7 linked regions of the Homo sapiens genome follow. The protein of the gene in region 1 purifies or fractionates together with the protein of each later gene. This does not show direct contact. Each region holds a gene or a part of one and is shown in the gene's direction. Other genes may lie near its edges. The genes, in order: SPINK2, MOB4, STRN, PMPCB, DMAC2L, PDP2 and RSPRY1.

Region 1 (4,087 bases):
TCTCAAACTCTTGAGCTCAAGTGATCCACCAGGCTCAGCCTCCCAAAGTGCTGGGATTAGAGGCGTGAGCCACCACGCCTGGCCTTAATGCACTAACTTGCTCAGCCTCTTTGGCAAAAATTATTTCTCACAGAAGTAATGAGTAGAACAGTAGTTACTAGAGGCTGGGAAGGATAGGGGGATAGGGAGAGGTTGGTTAAAGTATACAAAATTACAGCTAGGTAGAAAGGATAAGTGCTAGTGTTTCATAGCATTGTAGGGTGCCGACAATTAACAATAATATATTATAAAGGTCGAGCACGGTGGCTCAAGCCTGTAATCCCAGCACTTTGGGAGGCCAAGGTGGGCGGATTGCTTGAGCCCAGGAGTTTGAGAGTAGCCTGGGCAACATGGTGAGAACCCCTCTCTACAAAAAATGCAAAAATTAGCTTGGCATGGTGGCATATATCTGTGGTCCCAGCTACTTGGGAGGGAGGCTGAGGTGGGAGGATCACTGGAACCTGGGAGGTGGAGGTTGCAGTGAGCTGAGATCGTGCCACTGCACTCCAGCCTGGGTAAAAGAGCGAGACCCTGTCTGAAATTTAAATAATAATAATAATTTATTATGTATTTTCAAGTAGCTAGATGAGAGGATTTTGAATGTTCTCAACACAAAGTAATGATAAATGTTTGAGGTGATGAATATGCTAATTATCCTATTTTGATCACTACACATTGTATGTATCCAAATATCACTATGTACCCCCATAAATATGTACAATCATTATGTGTCAACTCAAATAGTTAAAAAATATATTAAAAGAGGGAAAGGCAGAACGCTTCCTGAGAGCAAGGACCTCCTTTGTCGAGGTCAGGGCTGTGTCTTCAGCAACGAAACACTATCTGGGACTTAGTACATGCTTAAGAAATAGGTGTTGATTGACAGAGCTCCCAAGAGCTCCACAAGGGTCCCCCTAGGACTGTCACAGGTTCTTGTATGTCGGAGGGAGAGGTCTTCCCCTTCGTCTCCTTGGGGGGAGGGGAAGGTGTTGGGGAACAACTGCCCCTTCCTCTATCTCCCTCGCCCCTCCTTCCCCATGGCCCCCTCCCCCGTCCTTCTACCTTTCTCCTTCCCAGCCCTTTCCGGTTCTCCCCCGACCCTTCACGGCTCCTCTTCCCGCCGCTCCTCTTCCCGCCGCCCCTCTTCCCTCGCCACCTACCGCTGCTTTTCCTCCCATTCTCGCCCCGCCCCTTCCCCCGCCCTCCCCGCGCCCCGTCGCACGAGCGCTCCCTGCGAGTGGCGCAGGTAACAGACCGCAGGGGCAAGACAGCCGGCGCGGGAGGAGGATGGCGCTGTCGGTGCTGCGCTTGGCGCTGCTGCTCCTGGCAGTTACCTTCGCAGGTAGCGCTCGGAGCGGTCCTGGCGAGCGGGGACCTCCGGAGAAAAGCGGGTTTGGGAGTCAGACCGGCGGCGGACCCTGCCCTGCTCCGGGCGGCCTCGGCGACGGTACCCGCGCGCCCGTTACTGGCGGTTCCCCAGAGGACCTGCCAGGTGGAGGAACGCGAACTGGGGGTTGTGGGGGTGGCTTTGTGGAGTCAGCCACCCTCTTTAGTTCTTGCTTGGGCTTCGCTCCCAGCTCTAAGGACACCTGCCATCTAGAGCGCTTTCTCTGTTAAAGTAGATTTTCAGGTGCCCAAGATGAGGAGTTGAGTTTTTATGTATGGTCCCAAGGGAGGAGATGTGCAGGAATGAGGAATTGTGGATGCTTACGAGAAAGGGGCTTTAGTCCAACCACACTGGACACCTCTCTTAAAATGGAGTTAAAATGCTCACATCTTATATTAAATTTTGTATTTGTTACCCCGAGTTGTAAAGGAAAATAACATCATGAACTATTAATTAAGGGTTACTTCCTTGGCCAGGTGTAGTGGCTTGGGCCGGTAGTCCCAGTTACTCCGGAGGTTGAGGCGGGAGGCTCGCTTGAGACCAGGAATTGAAGCTGCAGTGCGCTAGCGCGACTTTTATTCCATAGCTTCAAAGTCCTTTCTCAACCAACCCTAATGGGAACAGAACCAAATGTTATTTCTATGTGCTTTTGGGGAGAGGTGCCATAAAAAACTGAATATCCTTTCTGGGGGAAGTGGGATGGGGACAGTTTAAAGAAGGTAGGCATTAGAGGGGAAAATAGAAGATGTGGCCTGGATAAATCCCAAACTGGATTTTAAAACATCCTTATGAAGCTGGATGTGGTGGCTAATGCCTCAAATTCCAGCACTTTGGGAGGCCTAGGCAGGAAGATCGCTTAAGCCCGGGAGGTCAAGACCAGCCTGGGCAACATAGCAAGACTTCATTTAAAAAAAAAAAAAACTTCATGAACAATACCTTACCTTGATCCTATACTGTAAAATGTCTATGCTTTCTTCTTACAGCCTCTCTGATCCCTCAATTTGGTCTGTTTTCAAAATATAGAACGGTAAGTAGCAAACCACTTCTACTGTTTCTACTAATACAGTGAAGCCCAAAACCGTTTGGGAGGGAGGCTGGCTTTCAGGTCTGACCTGCCACTTTTGAAACCATTGAGGACTGCGTTTAAAACCAGGTTGTCAGGCAGGCCTTTTGATTCAGATAAAAGTGTAAGTTTTAGTTGAAAACAGCTCAGTCTTTGTGTTAATATTTCCTTTAAAGATTCAAAAGGTCCTTAGAAAAAGTTATGCCTTGTACTAGATATTTTATGTACTTTATCAAATTAAATTCTGAGGATGTAAATGGAGACCAACCAAATGAGAACAAGCAAAGGCTATGTTTTTCAGGGCTTGTTATAGCAAGAGAGTCAGCCACTGTCACTTGCATTTGAGTAGGGACTCGAGTCAAAGAGAGGAGTGGGAAAACTATAGTGGAAAAAAGGAATGGCTTCAGGTATGGCCTGATTGGAGGCTGTTGGCACAGGGAAGCTGTAGGTGAGCTAACTAGAAGCACAACATTCTATGGTATGGGTTAGGGGTGTGTATTTGGTTTTCTCTGGTTGTCCTAAGTTGGAATCAAGGACAGAAATTACGGAAGCTGTCAGTTAGTAATCAAATCCTAACCATTTTGCAGCTGGGCGCAGTGACTCACGCCTGTAATCCCAGTGCTTTGGGAGGCCGAGGTGGGCAGATCACGAGGTCAGGAAATCAAGACCATGCTGGCTAACATGGTGAAACCCCGTCTGTACTAAAAATACAAAAAATTAGCCAGGCATCATGGCACGTGCCTGTAATCCCACCTACTGGGAAGGCTGAGGCAGGAGAATCACTTGAACCTGGGAGGCAAAGGTTGCAGTGAGCTGAGTTCATGCCACTGCACTCCAGCCCAGACAACAGAGTGAGACTTCATCTCAAAAAAAAAAAAAAAGAAAGAAAAAAAAGTCCTAGCCATTTTGGGCTGATTGTTAAAGGGGTTATTGTTTTGCTTCCTGGACTGTCACTAGAGATAGCAGTCTGATTTCCTTCAAGTCTGGCTTATAGCCGGCTGGCCTCCTGGCCTGGTTATTCTAAATAATGGTTTGGGTTCCTGGACAGGATGCTGCAGGTTGTGGGTCAGAGTTCTGTTTTATATAAGGACTAGTCATTGTCTGTATATTTGGTCTCTCAATTCTCACAATGATGTTGTAAGATAGACATTATTTGACATATGAGGATATTGACTTCAGCAGGTTAACTTTGAGCATTCAGCTCAGAGTAGGCTTCTTCCAGGAAGCCTTCCCACGCGATTCCCTTCCTCTAGAGATGTAGATATGTATACACACACACTTTCTCTGTGCTTACCTATACTGCATCATCATCACCATCATAATAATAAATACTTAGATACCTACATGCCACACCAGTGTTCTAAATGCTTCATATATAATAACTAATTTCATCTTTCACAGTACTGTGAGGTAGGGATCATTATTTCATTATTATCCCCTTGGCCAAGGTCACATGGAAGTGGTGGAGCTATGCTTCTCATCCAGGCAGTCTGACTCCAGATCCAGTGCTTTTCTCTACCCTGTCACAACATTAGGTTGTAATTGCCTGTTTGCCTACGTCCTCCAGGAAACTGTATGCATGTTGTCAGGTATAATGT
Region 2 (3,500 bases), on another chromosome or scaffold:
TCCAGCCTGGGCGACAGAGTGAGACTCTATCTCAAAAACAAAAAAAAATTTCTATCCATAGAAGGTGTAGTGGGAACAGGAAAGACAAAAATGAATAGACAGATTGCTAATATATACAAATTACAAATGTGGCAGGAAATTGGATGGAGTTCTGTGAGGATTCGAATAATCAGGGAGTGCTTGAGTGTGTTGGGGGAACGAGAGATTTGGACAGAATTGTGATGTGGAATTTGAGGTGGCCTTTGGAGAAGGTATACAATTTAGCTGTATCTCCTCAAGGAGAGAGAGAATCAAAACTTTGAAACATTAGGATGAGATAAAAAAAATCAGGGAGAGTGGTTTCAATAGTAATTAAAGAGTCATTAAAAAGTGTTTGAGGCTGGGTACGGTGGCTCATGCCTGTAATCCCAGCACTTCGGGAGGCCGAGGCGGGTGGATCAGCTGAGGTCAGGAGTTTGAGACCAGCCTTACTAACATGGCGAAACCCTGTCTCTACAAAAAATACAAAAATTAGCCGGGCGTGATGGCAGGTGCTTGTATTCCCAGCTACTCGGGAGGCTGAGGCAGGAGAATCGCTTGAACCCGGCAGGCGGAGGTTGCAGTGAGCCAAGACTGAGCCATTGCACTCCAGCCTGGGCGACAGGAGCAAAACTCCTCAAAAAAAAAAAAAAAAAAAAAAAAGTATTTGATCCCTTTCCCTGTCATCATGGTGTGTGCGTGTGACTCAGTTCTTTGCCATGCCTTCCCACAAGACTTTAAGACTTTTAGAATCAAGTGATTCCTGGCCAAGAAACAAAAGCAAAATCGTCCCATTCCCCAGTGGATTCAGATGAAAACTGAGTAATAAAATCAGGTACAACTCTAAGAGGAGACATTGGAAAAGAACCAAGCTGGGTCTAGAAGGAATTTTACATGAGATGGCACACATACTTAATATTGCATCAAGGTCACTATCATGTCACCATATCAAGCTGAAAATGTCACCATCATCTGGACAGTTGTACATGCTGTATTGGAACAATGGTTTTTCTTTTGGTTTCTATGCTCTGCAGTAGGCTGGTTCAGTACTAAATATGTGAGACCTTTTGTTTGGAAAAAAAAGTTTTTGAGTAAGCAAGTGATATTCAAGAAAGATTGTCTGAAGTAGGCAAAATTGATTGGCTCAAGAAGGCCTTATAGTTAGTAAGTTTTTGTAACCACCCTTTTAATCTGTTCTAACGTATTTAGACTTCAGAATATCAAAAAGATTGCATAAAGCATTACAGAGATCTGAAATTTAAATTTTTATGTTATTACATTTTAAAAATTGAAAGTGACCCTCCCTTGCCTTTTTTTTTAAACTTAGTTTTTTCTGTTAGTCATTTAAAACAACTTTTATTGGATCTAATGAACATACCATACAAATCCCTATACAGTTAGAGTGATTATATTCACAGGGTTGCACAGCCATCACTACAGTCTAATTTTAAAGCTTTTTTGTTGTTGTTTTGTTTTTGAGATGGAGTCTCACTGTGTTGCCCAGGCTGGAGTGCAGTGGCACGATCTTGGTTCACTGCAACCTCCGCCTCCCGGGTCCAAGCGATTCTCTTGCCTCAGCCTCCAGAGTAGCTGGGACTACAGGTGTGTGCCACCACGCCTGGCTAATTTTTTTGTATTTTTAGTAGAGATTGGGTTTCACTATATTAGCCAGGATGGTCTCGATTTTCTGACCTTGTGATCTGCCCACCTCGGCCTCCCAAAGTGCTGGGATTACAGGCATGAGCCCCGACGCCCGGCCTTTTAGAACATATTTATCCTTCCTGAAAGGAAACCTCACCCTCATTAGCAGCCATCTTCAGTCTCTTCTGCCTTCCTCTCTGCCCTCAAGCCCTACACCAGTACAAATCTATTTCCTGTCTCAATAGATTTTCTTACTCTAGACACTTCATATAAACCAAATCACAATATGTACCATAGTTATATTTACATTGCCTATGGTGAAATCCTGTATCTACAAAATATGGAAAAGTTAGCCCGGCGTGATGGCGTGTGCCTGTAGTCCCAGCTCCTCAGGAGGCTGAGGTGGGAGGATTGCTTGAGCCCAGGAGGTGGATATTGCAGTGATCTGAGATTGTGCCACTGTACTCCAGCCTGGGTGATGCAGTGAGACCCTGTTTCAAAAAAAAAAAAAAAAAAAAGAAATTATGGTTTGCAATTTTGATCCAAGTTCCAGTCCTGACAAATACAATATCTGCATTTATGTAGTAGATTCTATCCAAATGAAGTTGAATTGAAGGATAAATAAGTAAGGGTAACCTACTTTTTTTCTTAGTTACTGATTATGATTCTATACTTGGTTTCCTATTTAGTGTATAACCCAAGTTGAACCACAAGAGCAGTTATGTATTAACAAATTATATGTACTTAACATAAGATTTACCAGGTGATATAATTTAATTAACCATAAGAACTTCTTTGTTTTTAGTATATTCAACAGAACATAAGAGCAGATTGCTCCAATATTGACAAAATTCTTGAACCACCTGAAGGCCAAGATGAAGGTGTGTGGAAGTATGAACATTTAAGGTAGGACCTTACATCAAAATACTAATAGTACCTCTCACAAAACTAGCTTTCATATTAATGATAATTATGAATTGTAAAATTTACTATGTAACTGCAGACTAAGAAGCCAAATTTTAAAGCTTTGGCATTTTCAGTGTCACAAGGTTCTCAGCTTTCTTCACTGGTTGTTTCCAGGTCAAATTATGCTGCAGAGTCACTCATTTTGAAAGGTGGTTTATTTCAGAGTTGATAATTTGGACCTGCCTCTGCACCTCTCTTCTTTTCTTTTCTTTTTTTTTTTTTTTTTTGAGATGGGGTCTCACTCTCTTGCCCACGTTGGAGTGCAGTGGTGTAATCACTGCTTACTGTGCCTCTACCTCTTAGGCTCAAGTGATCCTCCCACTTCAGCTTCCAGAGTAGCTGGGACTACAGGTGTGTGCCAGCATGCCTCACTAATTTTTTAATTTTTTGTAGAGACAGGATCTGATTGTGTTGCCCAGGCTAGTCTCAAACTCCTGGATTCAAGCAATTTTCCTACCTTGTCCTCCCAAAGTATTGAGCCACCCTTTCTACATTTATTCATTTGGGCCTTATTATCCCCGCCTTTTTTTTGAAACAGGGTCTTGATCTGTTGCCTAGGCTGGAATGCAGTGGTGCAATCTTGGCGCATTGCAGCCTCTGTCTCCCATGCTGAAGCAATCCTCCCACCTCAGCCTCCTGAGTAGCTGGGACTACTAGTGCATGCCTCTAAGCCTGGCTAGTTTTTTGTATTTTTTGTAGAGACAAGGTTTCACCATGTTGCCTAGGCTGGTCTCAAACTCCGGGGCTTAAGCAATCCACCCACCTTGGCCTCCCACAGTGCTGGGATTACCACCATGCCAGCCTGGGTTTTATTCTTATTTCATGATTTTCCTTAATTGTATCTCTTAACCGCTAATATAGTATTTCCGTTTCCC
Region 3 (3,500 bases), on another chromosome or scaffold:
ATTTCTATAGTGGTTTATGTCTCTCTTACTCTTTGTCCCAAATGACAGAGACCAATCTAGAAATTGGAAATAAATTATTAACGTCCAACTTTCCACCAAAAAACATATAAATAGGCTCTTAGATTTTAAAAATATTAAATCTATAGATATTTTAACCAATTAAAACAATTTCTACATATTCCATTCCCCACATTTTCCATCGTCATAACAATGATGCTTCTCATGATACGTACATCTACTCCTTGAAAAAGTATTCTGGTGGTGGTGTGGCTAATGATTGACAAATATTTCTGTAAAATTTCTGCCTGTTTGCCTCTAGAATTCTGCATTATACAGGCAAATTTTCTTTAAAGCTAGAGACTTGTGCTAAATTTGCCTGATTTTCATACAGATATGCTGTAGTAATACAGCTACCTTTTCATTTCATCTTTGTGCTTTGGTTAACAAGCAGGCTCAAGAGACTGCTTTGTGTAATTAAATGAATTGACCTAAACATGAGCTGTCAGGTGAATACTTAATATTTCCATGCAGATACAGAATTCCATATTGTGTTCAGTAAATTTCTTTTGGTTCTTCACAGTGAAGAAAGAATGTTTCTAACCTAACATTTGTAGAAGGATACTGGAAAATTCCTTCCAGGAAGGAAGGAAGGAAGATGCCATTACTTGGTGTATTTATGATGGATGACCACAAAGCTATTGTTCTACCAGTTATTAATTACCTTCTAAGATCTTCAGTTACTGCTTTATTAATGTCACTGAAATTCTAAAAACCAGGACATTCTTCCCCCGTTCATTTTATGCTTCATGGTTGAAATTTTTCTGTCAGTGAGTGGAAAATAACCATGAGATACATAGACTGTAGCGCAAATGGAACTGTTGAAAGTTCCTTAGAAAGCCAGTGCTGTGGCATTGGAGACTACGGAGAGAGTCTTCTCTACCAGCACTGCATGATCTCAGCCTAGAAATGAGCCAAAGCTGTCTTCCAACCAGAGTAGCATATACATGTGTCTGACTTTTCCCCTAGCCTGTTGAACATTCAATGAAAATTCACAGAATGAACAAATTCAATGTTTAAACAGCCATTGAAATGCTTTCATAGTGCTTCATTTGTAAATATTTTGTTTGAAATGTATTGGAATAGTATGAAAATTAGCGGGAGGTTTGGATCCCTGCCTTATTTTCATATGCTGTGGATACATCTCTGGGAGCTTGCAGCACCCTTCTCAAAACTCAACTGTCATATGGAGCTCATTTGCTACTCAAACCATAGACAGATTATTTAACAAAAGTGATATAATGACCTTCAGTATTTTTCTATTGAACAAGTTTAACAACTTTTGCCATTAAACAAATACTTAGTTATGCAAAATATTTCGCTTTTATAATCATTTTAGTTATGACTAAAACGGGGGAAATTGAGCTGCATCACTGATGATGAACTTTGTGAGAAATTTTTTTTTTAATCTGACTTTCATTCCTTCAGTATTCTTGCTATAAATTTCTTTTGGAGATAATGATGAAGATTTATTTGAAAATGTCTAAAATGTATGTATATTTTATAAATATATATTATATATATTGTAAGAATATATATAATATATAAACTATATATATATATATATATATATATATATATATATATATATAAACCATAGGTGCATTTTACTGTTTTGTATTTTCATTTTTGGAGGTAGTATACACAGCAGATAATGATGAGTATGATGAGTGTTGTGCTGTTTGCTTTTGCAGTATAATATATAGTTCTAAGTGTTTAAATTACTGTATATACAATATTCATTATAGGCTAGCATGCTTGTTTTAAAGACTGTCATTCTAGTGTATTAAAATCTGAATGTAAGAAAACCTGGCTATTCAAATGTGAATTGAAAAATATTTTATTCTCAGTACTGAACTATTTCCATTGAACATTCAGACTTTTTAACAAAAACAAATATCATCAAGAAGGCAATAGCTAGAAAATGAGAGGTGCCTTTAAAAAAAAAAATGCAGCCTTACAGTGAGGATGAAGATTGAGTTTGGGGAGGGGGTGGGAGGGGGGGCACAGAGAGAGAGAGAGAGTTAGTGTGTGTGTGTGTGTGTGTGTGTGTGTGTGTGTGTGCATGCATGCGTGTGTGTGTGTGTGTGTGTGTTTACCAATCTGTGAAGGTCCTGATTTGTGACCATCAATGTCTTTTTAATGTATCTGCTCAACTTCTAGGACTTCAGGGGACATTTCATGCGCTTTGTGCTCTTCTGAGCACCATATATACTTTCCAAGAATTTTGAATGTGAATTCCTAGAAATTTCAGTAGAGAAAACAATAGCTATTCTTTAATTATAGTAAAGTTCAGGTAGAAGGAGAAATTATTTGTTCACCAAAATTATGGGATCTCATTAATGTTGGCTAAGTAAATGTAATTTTTTAAAGGCTCACTTTTTAATACTTCATATATTTCCCTCTTACAAAACAGCATGTCATGAAGTTCTTATGTGGTAAAGATTCAACTAGTAAATATTTTTAGGTTAAATACCTGAACTAGTTAAAATTCCACCTAAGAATAGTCTTAAAATATTTAAAAAGCATCTCTCATATCTACCTCTTTGTCATTGCTGCCATTTTAACTGAAGCAAATCTTTATGACATCTGAAATGATGGTTGGATGCAATTAAAAAAAAATCTATGTTGGTGCTTTTCTCAGGCTTTGTCATTTAAGTTATATTGTATTAAGATGTCACAAATCAGACTGAAAGGCTTAGAATTAATTTTGTTTTTCTTTGAAAGAATTGCTTAAAATTAACCATCAATGTTTTTAGCGAGTGGAGATAATGAATCTTTGGTTGGTGTCTGTCTGTGTGATGTTTTCAACCAATAGCCAAATAATTATTGAACTTACATGAAAAAGAGTGCTAAGTATAATTTTATTTAGATTACTTTATTCTTTGAAAGTGACTACAAGGCTATTAAGTACATAATCATTCATTTTATTTACTCAGAAGTTGCCTCTCCATTACTGTTAACTTGTTTAGTAATTTATATAATTGCAGTACTTTTAAGTGTTGGACACTGGGATTCAGGTTGTATACAAAGTAGTAGCTGACGAAAAATATGTATATTTTTGTGAAATGTATCAAGCCCTAAAGTTCATTTTAGAGAAAGGCCCAGAAAAACGTATCTGTGTTTAAAAACAAAGGACAGGTCATTCGTCAATTTGAATCATTTTTACTTTTGCCACTACAAACTTTTTAATTGGCAATATCCATCATCCAACTGGATCTTCATGTCAGTGTCAGGGATGCCAGGTTGACAAAGTATTTAACAGATCCTTTCAGTTTTTGTTTTGTTTTTTTAATTCTAAAAAAAACAAATGTTAGGCCAAACAGATCCCTAGATCCCACTCATTGATTCTGGCGGTATTCCTAAAGTGGTGCTTAGGGGGTCAGAATTTTCTGGATCTTTGCTAATCCAAGCTTTAGATTTAATTTAACCAGGACCACATG
Region 4 (3,500 bases), on another chromosome or scaffold:
TGGGTGAGGGTACAGCTGATCTTATTTTTTTTCTAAATATGACAAATAGTAAATTATGGATGATGGTTTTTCTTAATATGTAGCAATAAAATAGAGATTATTTGGTGGGAATAAAATATTTTGTCAGGACAGCAGTTTGTTAGTTACCATGTTTGTAGACTGTTTTGACTCTCTTAAAAGTTATTACACAAAACATTTCCCAGTGGAAGAATTAACAACAAAATTTAGCAGTTTTAGAGCTAATTGGTAAACTCATTATTTTTGTTTAGAGAGATAGTCTCGCTCTGTCACCTAGGCTGGAGTGCAGTGGTGTGATCTCGGCTCGCTGCAACCTCTGCCTCCTGGGTTCAAGTGATTCTCCTGCCTCAGCCTCCTGAGTAGCTGGGATTATAGGCTCCTGCCACCATAGCTGGCTAGTTTTTATATTTTTAGTAGAGATGGGTTCTACCATGTTGGCCAGGCTGGACTTAAACTCCTGACCTCAAGTGACCCACCTGCCTCGGCCTCCCAAAGTGCTGGGATTATAGGCGTGAGCCACTGTGCACGGCCATTAGTGAAATTTTTAACCTTTAAGGTCCTTCTGTAGTTGTAGTTACTACTTTGCAATTTTGGATTCCTAATAGACTTTCATTAATAATGTTTAAATGGCACTTAACACAAGTACTTTTGTGTATATATTATCCATTTGATGTGCATAGGTGTTTCCACCTTGCAGTTGTGGAAATTGAAGCTCAGACTCTGACTTGCCCAGGATTGCATAGCTATCAGGTGGCTTACTGTGGACTCAAGTGCGTGTCTTCTTACCAGATTCATTTGCTTTGTCAAAACAATAAAATAAGAAACCTATCACTTGTAAATAACTAAAATACTTAATATGATACCCTAACTTTTGCATTAAAACAAAAATGACAGCAACGATGGAGGGTATGTTGGTTTGAATAACAAAACCAATAGAGACAGTTTTTGTCCCAGGACTAATTAGGGACCAAGAACATATGGCTAGGCCAAGGTTCTTTAAAGAGTTGTTCATTCCAGCCTAGTTCCTTCCTTTATTTACACAGAACAACAGGGAAGGCAAAAAGGAGAAACAGAAAAAGGAAGGATGAAATTAAACGACTTTTTTCCCCCTTTTCTCCTGGCATCTAGCTGGGAACGACAGAGCTTCTGCTAGTGGGAGTGGAAAAACAGGGGCTTTCCCTGAGGAATGCAAAATGGAAGTGCTCTCTGAAGCAGCTCCAACTTTGGGGATTTACTTGGGGTTTTTCACCCTTCACCCTGGGTGTGAAGCCTGGTATATGAAGTAATAATTAGATGTTTAGACTAATGGTCTCCAGGTTTTTATGATCACTTATTCTTTTTTTTTAATTTTTATTTTTTATTATTATACTTTAAGTTCTAGGGTACATGTGTACAACGTGCAGGTTTGTTACATATGTATTCATGTGCCGTGTTGGTGTGCTGCACCCGTTAACTCGTCATTTACATTAGGTATATCTCCTAACGCTATCCCTCCCTGCTCCCACCACCCCACGACAGGCTCCGGTGTGTGATGTTCCCACCTCGTGTCCAAGTGTTCTCATTGTTCAATTCCCACCTATAAGTGAGAACATGCGGTGTTTGGTTTTTTGTCCTTGTGATAGTTTGCTCAGAATGATGGTTTCCAGCTTCATCCATGTCCCTACAAAGGACATGAACTCATCCTTTTTTATGGATGCATAGTATTCCATGGTGTATATGTGCCACATTTTCTTAATCCAGTCTATCATTGATGGACATTTGGGTTGGTTCCAAGTCTTTGCTATTGTGAATAGTGCTGCAGTAAACATACGTGTGCATGATGATCACTTACTCTTATTGGTAAGAAAGTTGATCATATATCCTTAATGTATGTATACTTGTAAGTTAAATACATGTGCTACTATACTAACATATATTAAATACACATTTAAAAAAAAGATTCAGATTAAAACAGACTGGGAAATAGGAGCCCCCCTCCCTGCCTTTGGAAACTACCAGGGTAGACCACCAATCCCACATAAAGGAGGATTTTCACACAGGAATTCTTGTCCTTCCATTTGTCTATGGGCTCTTTCTCACCCATTTTACTGGACTCTGTTCTCTTATCTGGACAGATGGGTTTTATTTGGTTTTACAGATAATTTTTTCCTTTTGGTCATGATCTCAGCCACAGCTTACTATAATAGTTTGTTCTGTCATGTTCTTAGTATTTGAACATAATCAGTTCTGAGACAGTGCCCCTTAAAGTGAACTTAATTAAAACAAGCAACAACAGTTTGTAGTAGAGTAAAAAATGAAACCTAAACCAGACACGGTAGTACATGCCTTTAGTCTTGGCTACTTGGAGGAAGCTGAGGCAGGAGGATTGTTTGAGCCCAGGAATTTTGAGTCCAGTCTGGGCAGCATAATGAGACCTTGTCTCTTAGGGGAAAAAAAAGAAACTTAAGATTGTAAGTTTATTTTATAACATTAATCGTATTAATGAAATTTAGATTTATGATTGCAACTATGTACTAATTCTTCAAGAATGAAGCACAGTTTTTTTTTTGGAGAGGTATGCGCTTTTTCTGATAAAATTGCTTAATGGCCTAATATAACATGTTCCACTTCACTTTTGGCTTTTTGCAAATTAGGGTTTGAGAACACACAATTCTGTGATTCATTTGGGGCATATTTTAGATTGTAAGGATTCTTTTCTCTGTTGCCCAGGCGAGAGTGCAGTGGTGCAATCGCAGCTCACTGCAATCTTTGCCTCCCGAGCTCCACCCATCCTCCCATCTCAGCCTCCCGAGTAGCAGGGACTACGGGCACATGCCACCACACGAAGCTAATTTTTGTATTTTTTGTAGAGACAGGATTTTGGCATGTTCCCCAGGTTGGTCTGGAACTCCTGGGCTGAAGCCCATATTAGCCTCCCAAAGTGCTGGGATTATATAGGTGTGAGCCACGGTGCCTGACCAGTTCTTTGCTTCTTAACATAGCACTGTCATTGCTGTGGGAACTTGCATAGTAAATACTTGGGTGATACAAACCCTCTGTACATTGCTAGCTAGGTATTTTCAGACTAATATATATAACTTTGTAATTTTCATATAGAACAATCTATATTAATATGCAAATTTCCATAGCATTTTTTAAGTAGGTAGAGTCATTACAAGGTGATGGCAAATTTATACTTTTTCCCCAAGGAAAAAATCTTTTGTACTATAGGGGTTTATATGTTAAATTTTAATTTTGTCCTGTTAAGTATATCTGATGTTTTTCTCCTAGGCTAATCATTTAGTATTGAGTGATGGGTCAGTGTCATGATTTCTGATTTTGGTTTAATAGATTTTAATAGTGAAAGTTAAGATTGCTGGCACGTTTTCTTATATTTTATTTTCAATTAGCTGTAGAAATTCTTGCTGATATAATACAAAACAGCACATTGGGAGAAGCAGAGATTGAACGTGAGCGTGGAGTAATCCTTAGAGAGATGCAGG
Region 5 (3,500 bases), on another chromosome or scaffold:
AACATACGATGTTTGGTTTTCCATTCCTGAGTTACTTCACTTAGAATAATAAACTCCAGGCCAGGTGCAGTGGCTCACGCCTGTAATCCCAGCACTTTGGGAGGCCAAGGCAGGTGGATCACGAGGTCAGGAGATTGAGACCATCTTGGTCAACATGGTGAAACCCCATCTCTACTAAAATACAAAAAATTAGCTGGGCGTGGTGGCATATGCCTGTAATCCCAGCTACTTGGGAGGCTGAGGCAGGGGAATCACTTGAACCTGGGAGGCGGAGGTTGCAGTGAGCTGAGACTGCGCCACTGCACTCCAGCCTGGCGACAGAGCAAGATTCTGTTTCACAAAAAAAAAAAAAAAAAAAAAAAAAAAGAGTAATAAATTCCAATCCTATTCAGGTTGCTGCGAATGCCATTAATTCATTCCCTTTTATGGCTAACTAGTATTCCATCATATATATATACCACAGCTTCTTTATCCACTCATTGATTGATGGGCATTTGGGTTGGTTCCACATTTTTTGCAATTGCAAATTGTGCTGCTATAAACATGCGTGTGCAAGTATCTTTTTTGTATAATGACTTCCTTTCCTCTGGGTAGCTACCCAGTAGTGGAATTGCTCGATCAAATGGTAGTTCTAATTTTAGTTATTTAAGGAATCTCCACACTGTTTTCCATAGTGGTTGTACTAGTTTACATTCCCACCAGCAGTGTAGAAGTGTTCCCTTTACACCATATCCACGCCAACATCTATTTTTTTTTAATTTTTTGATTATGGCCATTCTTGCGGGGAGTAAGGTGGTATCACATTGTGGTTTTGATTTGCATTTTCCTGATGATTAGTGATGTTGAGCATTTTTTCATATATTTCTTGGCCATTCATATATCTTCTTTTGAGAATTGTCTTCATGTCCTTAGCCCACTTTTTGATGGGATTGTTTTTTTCTGCTAATTTGTTTGAGTTCATTGTAGATTCTAGATGTTAGTCTTCTGTCAGATGTATAGATTGTGAAGATTTTCTCCCACTATGTGGGTTGTCTGTTTACTCTGCTGACTGTTCCTTTTGCCACGCAAAAGCTCTTTAGTCCCAACTATTTATCTTTGTTTTTATTGCATTTGCTTTTGGGTTCTTGGTCATGAAACCCTTGCCTAAGCCAATGTCTAGAAGGGTTTTTCTGATGTTATCTTCTAGAATTTTTATAGTTTCAGGTCTTAGATGTAAGTCCCTGATCCATCTTGAGTTGATTTTTGTATAAGGTGAGAGATGAGGATCCAGTTTCATTCTCCTACATGTGGCTTGCCAGTTATCCTAGTACCATGTGTTGAATAGGATGTCCTTTCCCCACTTTATATGTTTGTTTGTTTTGTTGAAGATCAGTTGGCTATAAGTATTTGGGTTTCTTTCTAGGTTCTCTGTTTTGTTCCATTGGTGTATGTGCCTATTTTTATACCAGTACCATGCTGTTTTGGTGACTATGGCCTTATGGTATAGTTTGAAATCAGGTAATGTTGTGCCTCCAGATTTATCTTTTTGCTTAGTCTTGCTTTGGCTATGTGGGCTCTTTTTTGGTTCTATATGAATTTTAGGATTGTTTTTTCTAGTTCTCTGAAGAATGATGGTATTTTTATGGGAATTGTATTGATGGGAAGACTAATATCCAGAATCTGCAATGAACTTGAAGCAATTTGTAGATTGCTTTTGGCAGTATGATCATTTTCACAATGTTGACTCTATCCATCCATGAGCATGGGATGTGTTTCCATTTGTTTATGTCATCTGTTATTTCTTTCAGCAGTGTTTTGTAGTTTTCCTTTTAGAGGTCATTCACCTCCTTGGTTAGGCATATTCCTAAGTTTTTTTTGTGTGTGTGGCTATTATAAAAGGGGTTGAGTTCTTGGTTTGATTCTCAGCTTGGTCACTGTTGGTGTATACTAAAGGTACTAATTATGTCATTAATTTTGTATTCTGAAACTTTGCTGAATTCATTTATTGGTTCTAGGAGCTTTTTGGAGGAGTCTTTAGGGTTTTCTAGGCATACAATCATATCATTAGCAAATAGCAAGTTTGACTTCCTCTTTACCGATTTGGATGCCTTTTATTTCTTTCTCTTGTCTGATTGCTCTAGCTAGAACTTCCAGTACTATGTTGAATAGAAGTGATGAGAGTGGGGCTGGGTGCCGTGGCTTATGCCTGTAATCCCAGCACTTTGGGAGGCCAAGGCGGGTGGATCACCTGAGGTCAGGAGTTCAAGACCAGCCTGGCCAACATGGTGAAACCCCATCTCTACTAAAAATACAAAAAATTAGCCGGACGTGGTGGTGGGCGCCTGTAATCCCAGCTACTTGGAAGGCTGAGGCAGGACAATCGCTTGAACCCAGGAGGCAGAGGTTGCAGTGAGCTGAGGTCATGCCATTGCACTCCAGTCTGGGCAACAAGAGTGAAACACTATCTCCAAAAAAAAAAAAGGGGGGTGGTGGTGGTGAGAGTCGGCATCCTTATCTTGTTCCAATTCTTGGAGGGAATGCTTTAAACTTTCCCCGTTCATATTATGTTGGCTGTGGGTTTGTCATAGATGGCATTTATTACTTTGAGGTATGTCCCTTGTATGCCAATTTTGCGGAGGATTTTAATCACAAAGGGATGCTGGATTTTGTCAAATGCTTTTTCTGCATCTATTGAGATGATCATGTGATTTTTGTTTTTAATTGTGTTTATGTGGCATATAACATTTATTGACTTGTGTATGTTAAGCCATTTGTGCATCCCTGTATGAAACTCAATCATGGTGGATTATCTATGGCAGCAGTAATTTAGTAGTGGTTATTTTCTAATTTGCGTTTAACTGGGTTCTTTTAATTTATTAGAGCTAGATTCACTAACTTCCCACTAGAGGTCTCCTCTTTCCCTATAGAAAGCGTTCCCAAAGGCAACTGTTTGGACTCAAGTAGGAATAATTTGCAAAATCATTAGCAAAGTTGCAGTTGAAATGTAAAAACCTACCAATTTTTGTTACCTCTATTGCCAAATATAAATTTAATTTTTATGTTTAAAACATTTTAAATCTAATATCTTGTGTTTTTAGAGATTACAGCCTAAGTAAATTTGGCCTTTCGTTTAAGCTAAATTATAAGATGGGCCAAAATGAATCAAGCAAAAATATTCAGTTTTCAAAGACCACTCTAATTCACCTGCTTAATAACAGTTTAACTGGTTTTACCTTTCTCCATGGAAACATGTCAACCGTTGAAGACTATTAATAAACAAATATTTATTAAACTTTTGCATTATGCTGAGAAAAATGGAAATGAATAAGATGCCATCCTTGTTCTTTTACTTTGCATACTCTTTTTTCGTTCTAACTGGAATTTTTTTTTTCATATTCTGCTTCTGCTTCTAGACTAACTGAAAACTCTTAATCATTAAGACCCATTTCAAAAGACACCTCTAGTGTGAAGGCCTTCTTCTCACTCCCTTCTCTAGATTCTCATGGTATTTGTTCACACCT
Region 6 (3,500 bases), on another chromosome or scaffold:
TGCAGCCTCAACTTACCAGGCTCAGATGATTCTCCTACCTCAGCCTCCCAAGTAGCTGTGACTATAGATACACACCACCATGCCTGGCAATTTTTTTATTTTTTTTATTTTTTTGGAGAGACAGGGTTTCACCATGTTGCCCAGGCTAGTCTCGAACTCCTGGGCTCAAGCTATCCACCCACCTTGGCCTCCCAAAGTGCTAGGATTACAGGCATGAGCCACCAGGCCTGGCCCCCGAAGCAGATATTTAAATGAACACTTATAGTCTGCTGGTGAGAGTGAGTTTAGTGTATTTTAAATAGTTTATTCTAAGTCATTTTTGTTCAGGATATTAGCAAATGTTTTCAGAAGTCAGTATTTTTAAGAAATTAAATTTGTGGCTGGGTGCTTTGGCTCACGCCTGTAATCCCAGCACTTTGGGAGGCCGAGGCAGGTGGATCACAAGGTCAGGAGATCGAGACCATCCTGGCTAACATGGTGAAACCCTGTCTCTACTAAACATACAAAAAATTGGCCAGGTGTGGTGGCGGGCGCCTGTAGTCCCAGCTACTCCAGAGTCTGAGGTAGGAGAATGGCATGAACCTGGGAGGCGGAGCTTGCAGTGAGCAGAGATCACACCACTGCACTCCAGCCTGGGCGGCAGAGCGAGACTACGTCTCAAAAAAAAAAAAAAAAAAAAGAAATTAAATTTGAAACTTCAACTTTTTAATTTTTAGGTTTAAAAATATCCTTTTTTGCTGAAGGAACACATTTGCTGGTATAGTTTCAGAATGTCAAGTACTGTGTCCTACTGGATCTTAAATTCTACAAGGAACAGCATTGCCACATTGCAAGGGGGTAGACGCTTATACTCCAGGTATGTCTCAAATAGGAATAAATTAAAATGGAGGCTCTTTTCCCGGGTGCCACCCACCCTAAACAGTTCCCCATGTGGTGGCTTTACTCTGTGCAAAGCCTACAGACACACATCAACAGAGGAAGATGATTTTCACTTGCAACTCAGCCCTGAGCAGATAAATGAAGTGCTTCGAGCTGGCGAGACAACCCACAAGATTCTTGACCTTGAAAGCAGAGTCCCAAATTCAGTGTTGCGGTTTGAGAGCAACCAGCTGGCTGCCAATTCCCCAGTGGAGGACCGGCGAGGTGTAGCCTCCTGCCTGCAAACCAATGGACTGATGTTTGGCATCTTCGATGGACATGGTGGTCATGCATGTGCCCAAGCAGTGAGCGAGAGGCTCTTCTACTATGTGGCAGTGTCCCTGATGTCCCACCAGACCCTGGAGCACATGGAGGGAGCTATGGAAAGCATGAAACCCTTGCTGCCCATCCTGCATTGGCTCAAGCACCCAGGGGACAGTATCTACAAGGATGTCACATCTGTGCATCTTGACCACCTCCGTGTCTATTGGCAGGAACTGCTTGATTTGCACATGGAAATGGGACTAAGCATTGAAGAAGCATTAATGTACTCCTTCCAGAGACTGGATTCTGACATCTCGCTGGAAATCCAGGCCCCCCTGGAAGATGAGGTGACAAGGAACCTGTCACTCCAGGTTGCTTTCTCTGGGGCAACAGCTTGCATGGCCCATGTTGATGGAATTCACTTGCACGTGGCAAATGCTGGTGACTGCCGAGCCATCCTTGGTGTCCAAGAGGACAATGGCATGTGGTCTTGTCTGCCCCTTACACGTGACCACAATGCCTGGAACCAGGCCGAGCTGTCCCGGCTAAAGAGGGAGCACCCTGAGTCAGAGGACAGGACGATCATCATGGAGGACAGGCTACTGGGCGTCCTCATCCCCTGCAGGGCCTTTGGGGATGTTCAGCTGAAGTGGAGTAAAGAGTTGCAGCGCAGCATTCTGGAGAGGGGCTTCAATACCGAGGCCCTCAACATTTACCAGTTCACACCCCCACACTACTACACTCCACCCTACCTGACTGCTGAGCCTGAGGTCACATACCACAGGCTGAGGCCCCAGGATAAGTTCCTTGTGCTGGCCTCAGATGGCCTGTGGGACATGCTGAGCAATGAGGACGTGGTAAGGCTGGTGGTGGGGCACCTGGCTGAGGCAGATTGGCACAAGACAGACCTGGCCCAGAGACCCGCCAACTTGGGGCTCATGCAGAGCCTGCTGCTGCAGAGGAAAGCCAGCGGGCTCCACGAGGCTGACCAAAATGCAGCCACGCGGCTGATCAGACATGCCATCGGGAACAATGAGTATGGGGAGATGGAGGCAGAGCGGCTGGCGGCGATGCTGACATTGCCAGAGGACTTGGCGAGGATGTACAGGGATGATATCACTGTCACTGTGGTGTATTTTAACTCAGAATCAATCGGTGCATATTACAAGGGGGGTTAAGAATCTCCCATCCTATTGTCAAGGTTAACATAAATGCTCTTCTAAAATGTTTCACTTACTCCTAAACTAGCTATCCAAACCTTACTATTAAAAGCGCAGGCAGATTTAATTTGCTAAATAGACTAACAGGAGGAAAAAAACAAACAGCCTAGCTTTAAAAAACAGTGAAATAGCAGTGATTTCATGTCCCTGTATGTTCTGATTAAGTCTTATATGCAGAGAGGACAGAGCATAAAGTCTATAGAATTGGCTTGGGCTTGTGTAGCCCCAGTCATTTGATAAAGATGTTGTTAAACTGTGTCAGCCTGAGCCTTCAAAGGGTAAATTTAATCATGATTCTGAGAATAAAGAACTTCAGGAGCTTCTTAGGTCTTGCCACAAAAATCTGCAAATTTGATAATTCTCCTGAATTCACAATCATGGACTTGTAGACTATGAAGAGATATTTTATTTGTTTGTCTTTTATTTAAATTACTAAGGTCTAGGTTTACAAAGCATACTACAGGACCCTTTTCTATGCAATATCCTAACTTTTTTTTTTGTGATTATGCTTGTGAGAAATTTTGTAATACTACATTCTAGTTCTGTTTTCGTTTATTTTAAAACTGAATCCTTAAACTTGCAAACACGCCTACTGTAAGCATGCTTGGAATGACTTGTTTTGGTTTTCAGCTGATAGGATCTATGCCTCTGGACCAGCTGAACTTACTGGTGCAGCTTTTTGTGCCCTCTACTGAGTCCCATTCCAGAAACTTTGAGCCATGCTAGGAGGTAACTAGTCTATGCCTTAACTCCTGACCTTTCCTGCATTAGTAAAATTTCCTCCTGGGCTGAGCCTTTGGGGGTTGATTCACAGCATTTAAGCTTTCTGATTATACCTCTCAAACATTCTTCTGTCAATTCCACACAATCCTTCTACCTCTGCTATGCTGAACCCCTCATTCACCCTGCACCTGCCAACTGCAAAATATTGTCTGAAAGAATCTTTCACATGTTCCTGCTTCCTATGGCTGCAGGAAAGGAGAAAATGTGATTGCATGTGGTAGTTGTGGTGATAGACGTTTAGACAGGACAGGTTAATTTAGCGGATTGTGGACTTAAGATTCAACCTCTATCTGGAGAGGTGAAAACACAAAGGCT
Region 7 (3,500 bases), on another chromosome or scaffold:
CTTGGCTTCTCAAAGTGTTGGGATTATACGTGTAAGCCACTGTGCCCAGCCTAGGTTAAAATTTTTTAAATGTTAAAAATAGAAGCATTTAAGGCTGGGCGCGGTGGTTCACGCCTGTAATCCTAGCACTTTGGGAGGCTGAGGTGGGTGGATCACCTGAGGTCAGGAGTTCGAGACCAGCCTGAACAGCATGGTGAAACCCCGTCTCTACTAAAATACCCCGTCTCTACTAAAAATCAGCCGGGAGTGGTGGCAGGCACCTGTAATCCCAGTACTCAGGAGGCTGAGGCACGAGAATTGTTTGAACCTGGGAGGCAATGGTTGCAGTGAGCTGAGATTGTGCTACTGCACTCCAGCCTGGGCGACAAAGCGAAACTCTGTCTCAAAAAAAAAAAAAGAAGCATTTAGGTTGGGCGCAGTGGCTCACACTTGTAATCTCAACACTTTGGGAGGCCAAAGCAGGCAGATTGTTTGAGTCCAGGAGTTCAAGACCAGCCTGGCAACATGGTGAAACCCTGTTTCTACAAAAAAATCCAAAAGTTAACAGGGTAACGTGGTGCATGCCTATAGTCCCAGCTGCTCAGGAGGCTGAGGTGGGAGGATCACTTGCAATCTGGAGGTCGAGATTGCAGTGAGACAAGATGGCGTTATTGCACTCCAGCCTGGTTAAAAAAAGAAGTATTTGTATCTCAGGTGGCGATCTTTATTCAGAAGCTAGAAGAGAATGTTGAGTTGCTTCGCTGATTTTCTTATCTTTCTCTAAGCAATTTCCTCATAACAAAAGTTTTAAGAATGTTTTTTATTAAGAGGAAAAACTGGGCTGAATGTACTGGCTCATGCCTGTGATCCCTGCACTTTGGGAGACCAAGGCAGGAGGATCAGTTAAGCTCAGGAGTTTGATACCAGCCTGAACAACATAGTGAGACCTTGTCTCTGTTAAAAAAAAAAAAAAAAAAGAAAGCCAGGCACGGTGGCTCATGCCTGTAATCCCAACACTTTGGGAGGCCAAGGCAGACAGATCACTTGAGGTCAGGAGTTCAAGACCAGCCTGGCCAACATGGTGAAACCTCATCTCTACTAAAAATACAAAAATTAGCCAGCACGATGGCGTGCACCTGTAATCCCAGCTACTTAGGAGGCTGAGGCAGGAGAATCACTTGAACTCGGAAGGTGGAGGCTGCAGTGAGCTGAGATTGCACCACTGCACTTCAGCCTGGGCGACAGAGTGAGACTCCATCTCAACAACAACAACAAAAAAAAGTTAAAACTGAAAGCACTTTTGAATCTTACTCAAATGTATTAATGATTAGTGTAACATTGGTTATCCTTTACATAGAACAAAAGCATCGAACTTTCATTGCTTTCCCATGTGTTTTACAGAGTCCTTTTTTTTTTTCTTTTTTTCTTCTTTTGGATTCTGGCATCTTTCATTTTTAAGATGGAGTCTTGCTATGTTGCCCAGACTGGTCTCAAACTCCTGGGCTCAAGCATCCTCCCACCTTGGCCTCCCAAAGTGCTGGGATTACAGGCATGAGCCACTGTGCCCAGCCTCAATTCTGGCATTTTCATTCATCTGTTTAAGCCCAGTGCAGAAAAACATTGTGGACGGAAGGGGAAAGTCTTTAGCGTAGTCACCAATGAATTGACCTTTGCCTAGGCTTATAAGAGCTGCCTGTTTCAATTTGCCTTCAACTCTGTTGGGGCAGGGTGCAGTGGTTCATGCCTATAATCCCAAAACTTTTGGGGGCTGAAGCAGGAGGATCACTTAAGGCCAGGAGTTCAAGACCAGCCTGGGCAACATAATGAGATTCCCATCTCTACAGAAAATTAAAATTATCTGGGCACTGTGACATGTGCCGGTAGTCCCAGCTACGAGGGAGGCTGAAGTGGGAGGATCACTTGAGCCCAGGAGGTAAAGGCTACAGTGAGCCATGATCACTTCACTGCACAGCAGCCTGGGAAACAGAGCAAGAGCAAAAAGAAAAGAAGAAAACTCTGCTGGGATTTGTTTTTGCTTAGTAAAACTTTTTTTAAAGTAACTTTTTACTTCAACATCACCAGCCTTTAATGTTTTCATAATGGCATCTGAGTGGGTTTAATCTGTTTAGTGATTCAAGAATATGTAGCATATATTTGATACAACTTAAGCATTCTGAATGAAGTGGAATCTAGTAAGTCATGTAAGGAGACTTTCAGGTTGATCAGATATTTCCCATCAATGATATCATTAGGGTACATTGCATAATTTTTATATGGTCATTCTGAGTTTATTTAACACCTGGTTATAGCTCCCCCCACCCCCCTGAGACGGAGCCTTGCTCTGTCGTCCAGGCTGGAGTGCAGTGGCACGATCTCGGCTCACTGCAACCTCTACCTCCCAGGTTCAAGTGATTCTCCTGCCTAAGCCTCCTGAGTAGCTGGGATTACAGGCGCGCACCACCACACCTGGCTAATTTTTGTATTCTTAGTAGAGATGGGGTTTCACCATGTTGGCCAGGCTGGTGTCGAACTCTTGACCTTGTGGTCCGCCCGCCTCGGCCTCCCAAAGTGCTGGTTATAGCTTTTGTCTCAAAAAAAAAATGAGCCTGGGAAAACAACCTGTGTAGTATATGGGTCAAACCCACTTGTACTTTTTTGTTTTAGGATGCACTCCAGAAATTGACTGAAATTCTCAATTTAAATGGAGAAGTAGCTTGCCAGGACTCAAGCCATCCTGCCAAACACAGGAACACATCTGCAGTCCTAGGCTGCTTGGCCGAGAAACTAGCAGGTAACTTTGGGACACTCCACAGTGGAAGATCTTAAGTTGTTTGACATTAAAGGGAAATTTGTACTGTATGTCTTTGATCAAACTGCTATACCAGAAAGAAATCTCTTAAAAATGATATTGAGAGACATAGACTAACTGGAAGAAAATTACTGAAAGGCTACAGAGGTGAATGCAATTTAATTTAGCTTTGTGGATTTTCAGGGGAAATTTTAAAAGAAAAAAGTTGTGCTTATTTGCTTTAAGAATAAGGAGCGAGGAAAAGAAAAAAGGGAGAAAAGCTAAATTCAGCATAACAAAGATATGTATGTGTGTATACAATATATAATTTGCATATATACACACTTTATAAAGTTTAGCTCGATTATGAAGACATACAAGGTAGAGGGAGAGGAAAAGGAACTTCTGGTTGGAGCAGTTCCTGAGAAGCAGGTATTTAATTTGTTTATGAATGTTACCCATTTTAAGAAAGTTAACAGCAAAGTACAGGGGCATAGCTCAGCTACTTACATCACGTAATGTGGAAGAAACAATGGATTAGAAATCAGAACATGTGGCTACTGGTTTGGACTCTCCCATGTGCTTGCCAAGTGCCCTGGAGTTAGTTGCTTAATTCTGTGGGCTCACTTGCTTAACTGTGAAATGGAGCTAGTACTATTTTCTACCTCAGAGCAGGAGGCTTTAATAAGATAATGTGCATGAAAGAGTTCTACCAAAACAATTTGATTGTTAC

What was found.
Region 2: the proteins of SPINK2 (region 1) and MOB4 purify together in Homo sapiens (affinity purification with mass spectrometry; 2 studies listed by BioGRID and IntAct, with this or other methods). This does not show direct contact.
Region 3: the proteins of SPINK2 (region 1) and STRN purify together in Homo sapiens (affinity purification with mass spectrometry; 2 studies listed by BioGRID and IntAct, with this or other methods). This does not show direct contact.
Region 4: the proteins of SPINK2 (region 1) and PMPCB purify together in Homo sapiens (affinity purification with mass spectrometry; 2 studies listed by BioGRID and IntAct, with this or other methods). This does not show direct contact.
Region 5: the proteins of SPINK2 (region 1) and DMAC2L purify together in Homo sapiens (affinity purification with mass spectrometry; 2 studies listed by BioGRID and IntAct, with this or other methods). This does not show direct contact.
Region 6: the proteins of SPINK2 (region 1) and PDP2 purify together in Homo sapiens (affinity purification with mass spectrometry; 2 studies listed by BioGRID and IntAct, with this or other methods). This does not show direct contact.
Region 7: the proteins of SPINK2 (region 1) and RSPRY1 purify together in Homo sapiens (affinity purification with mass spectrometry; 2 studies listed by BioGRID and IntAct, with this or other methods). This does not show direct contact.

Annotation. Positions count from the first base shown.
Region 1 is NC_000004.12:56,818,902-56,822,988, reverse strand, and holds the start of SPINK2 (serine protease inhibitor Kazal-type 2 isoform 1 precursor), read left to right. Parts: upstream 1-1,287; 5' UTR 1,288-1,326; coding exon 1,327-1,531; exon of another isoform or gene 1,532-1,669; intron 1,670-2,409; coding exon 2,410-2,453; intron 2,454-4,087. UniProt on the Homo sapiens protein: As a strong inhibitor of acrosin, it is required for normal spermiogenesis. It probably hinders premature activation of proacrosin and other proteases, thus preventing the cascade of events leading to spermiogenesis defects.
Region 2 is NC_000002.12:197,533,066-197,536,565, forward strand, and holds part of MOB4 (MOB-like protein phocein), read left to right. Parts: intron 1-2,464; coding exon 2,465-2,565; intron 2,566-3,500. Other genes in the region: HSPE1-MOB4 protein, read left to right, coding at 2,465-2,565.
Region 3 is NC_000002.12:36,844,537-36,848,036, reverse strand, and holds part of STRN (striatin), read left to right. Parts: 3' UTR 1-3,500. UniProt on the Homo sapiens protein: Calmodulin-binding scaffolding protein which is the center of the striatin-interacting phosphatase and kinase (STRIPAK) complexes.
Region 4 is NC_000007.14:103,300,435-103,303,934, forward strand, and holds part of PMPCB (mitochondrial-processing peptidase subunit beta isoform 1 precursor), read left to right. Parts: intron 1-3,407; coding exon 3,408-3,500. UniProt on the Homo sapiens protein: Catalytic subunit of the essential mitochondrial processing protease (MPP), which cleaves the mitochondrial sequence off newly imported precursors proteins. Preferentially, cleaves after an arginine at position P2.
Region 5 is NC_000014.9:50,315,324-50,318,823, forward strand, and holds part of DMAC2L (ATP synthase subunit s, mitochondrial isoform a precursor), read left to right. Parts: intron 1-3,500. UniProt on the Homo sapiens protein: Involved in regulation of mitochondrial membrane ATP synthase. Necessary for H(+) conduction of ATP synthase. Facilitates energy-driven catalysis of ATP synthesis by blocking a proton leak through an alternative proton exit pathway.
Region 6 is NC_000016.10:66,883,515-66,887,014, forward strand, and holds part of PDP2 ([Pyruvate dehydrogenase [acetyl-transferring]]-phosphatase 2, mitochondrial precursor), read left to right. Parts: intron 1-716; 5' UTR 717-770; coding exon 771-2,360; 3' UTR 2,361-3,500. UniProt on the Homo sapiens protein: Mitochondrial enzyme that catalyzes the dephosphorylation and concomitant reactivation of the alpha subunit of the E1 component of the pyruvate dehydrogenase complex (PDC), thereby stimulating the conversion of pyruvate into acetyl-CoA.
Region 7 is NC_000016.10:57,210,329-57,213,828, forward strand, and holds part of RSPRY1 (RING finger and SPRY domain-containing protein 1 isoform 1 precursor), read left to right. Parts: intron 1-2,643; coding exon 2,644-2,770; intron 2,771-3,500.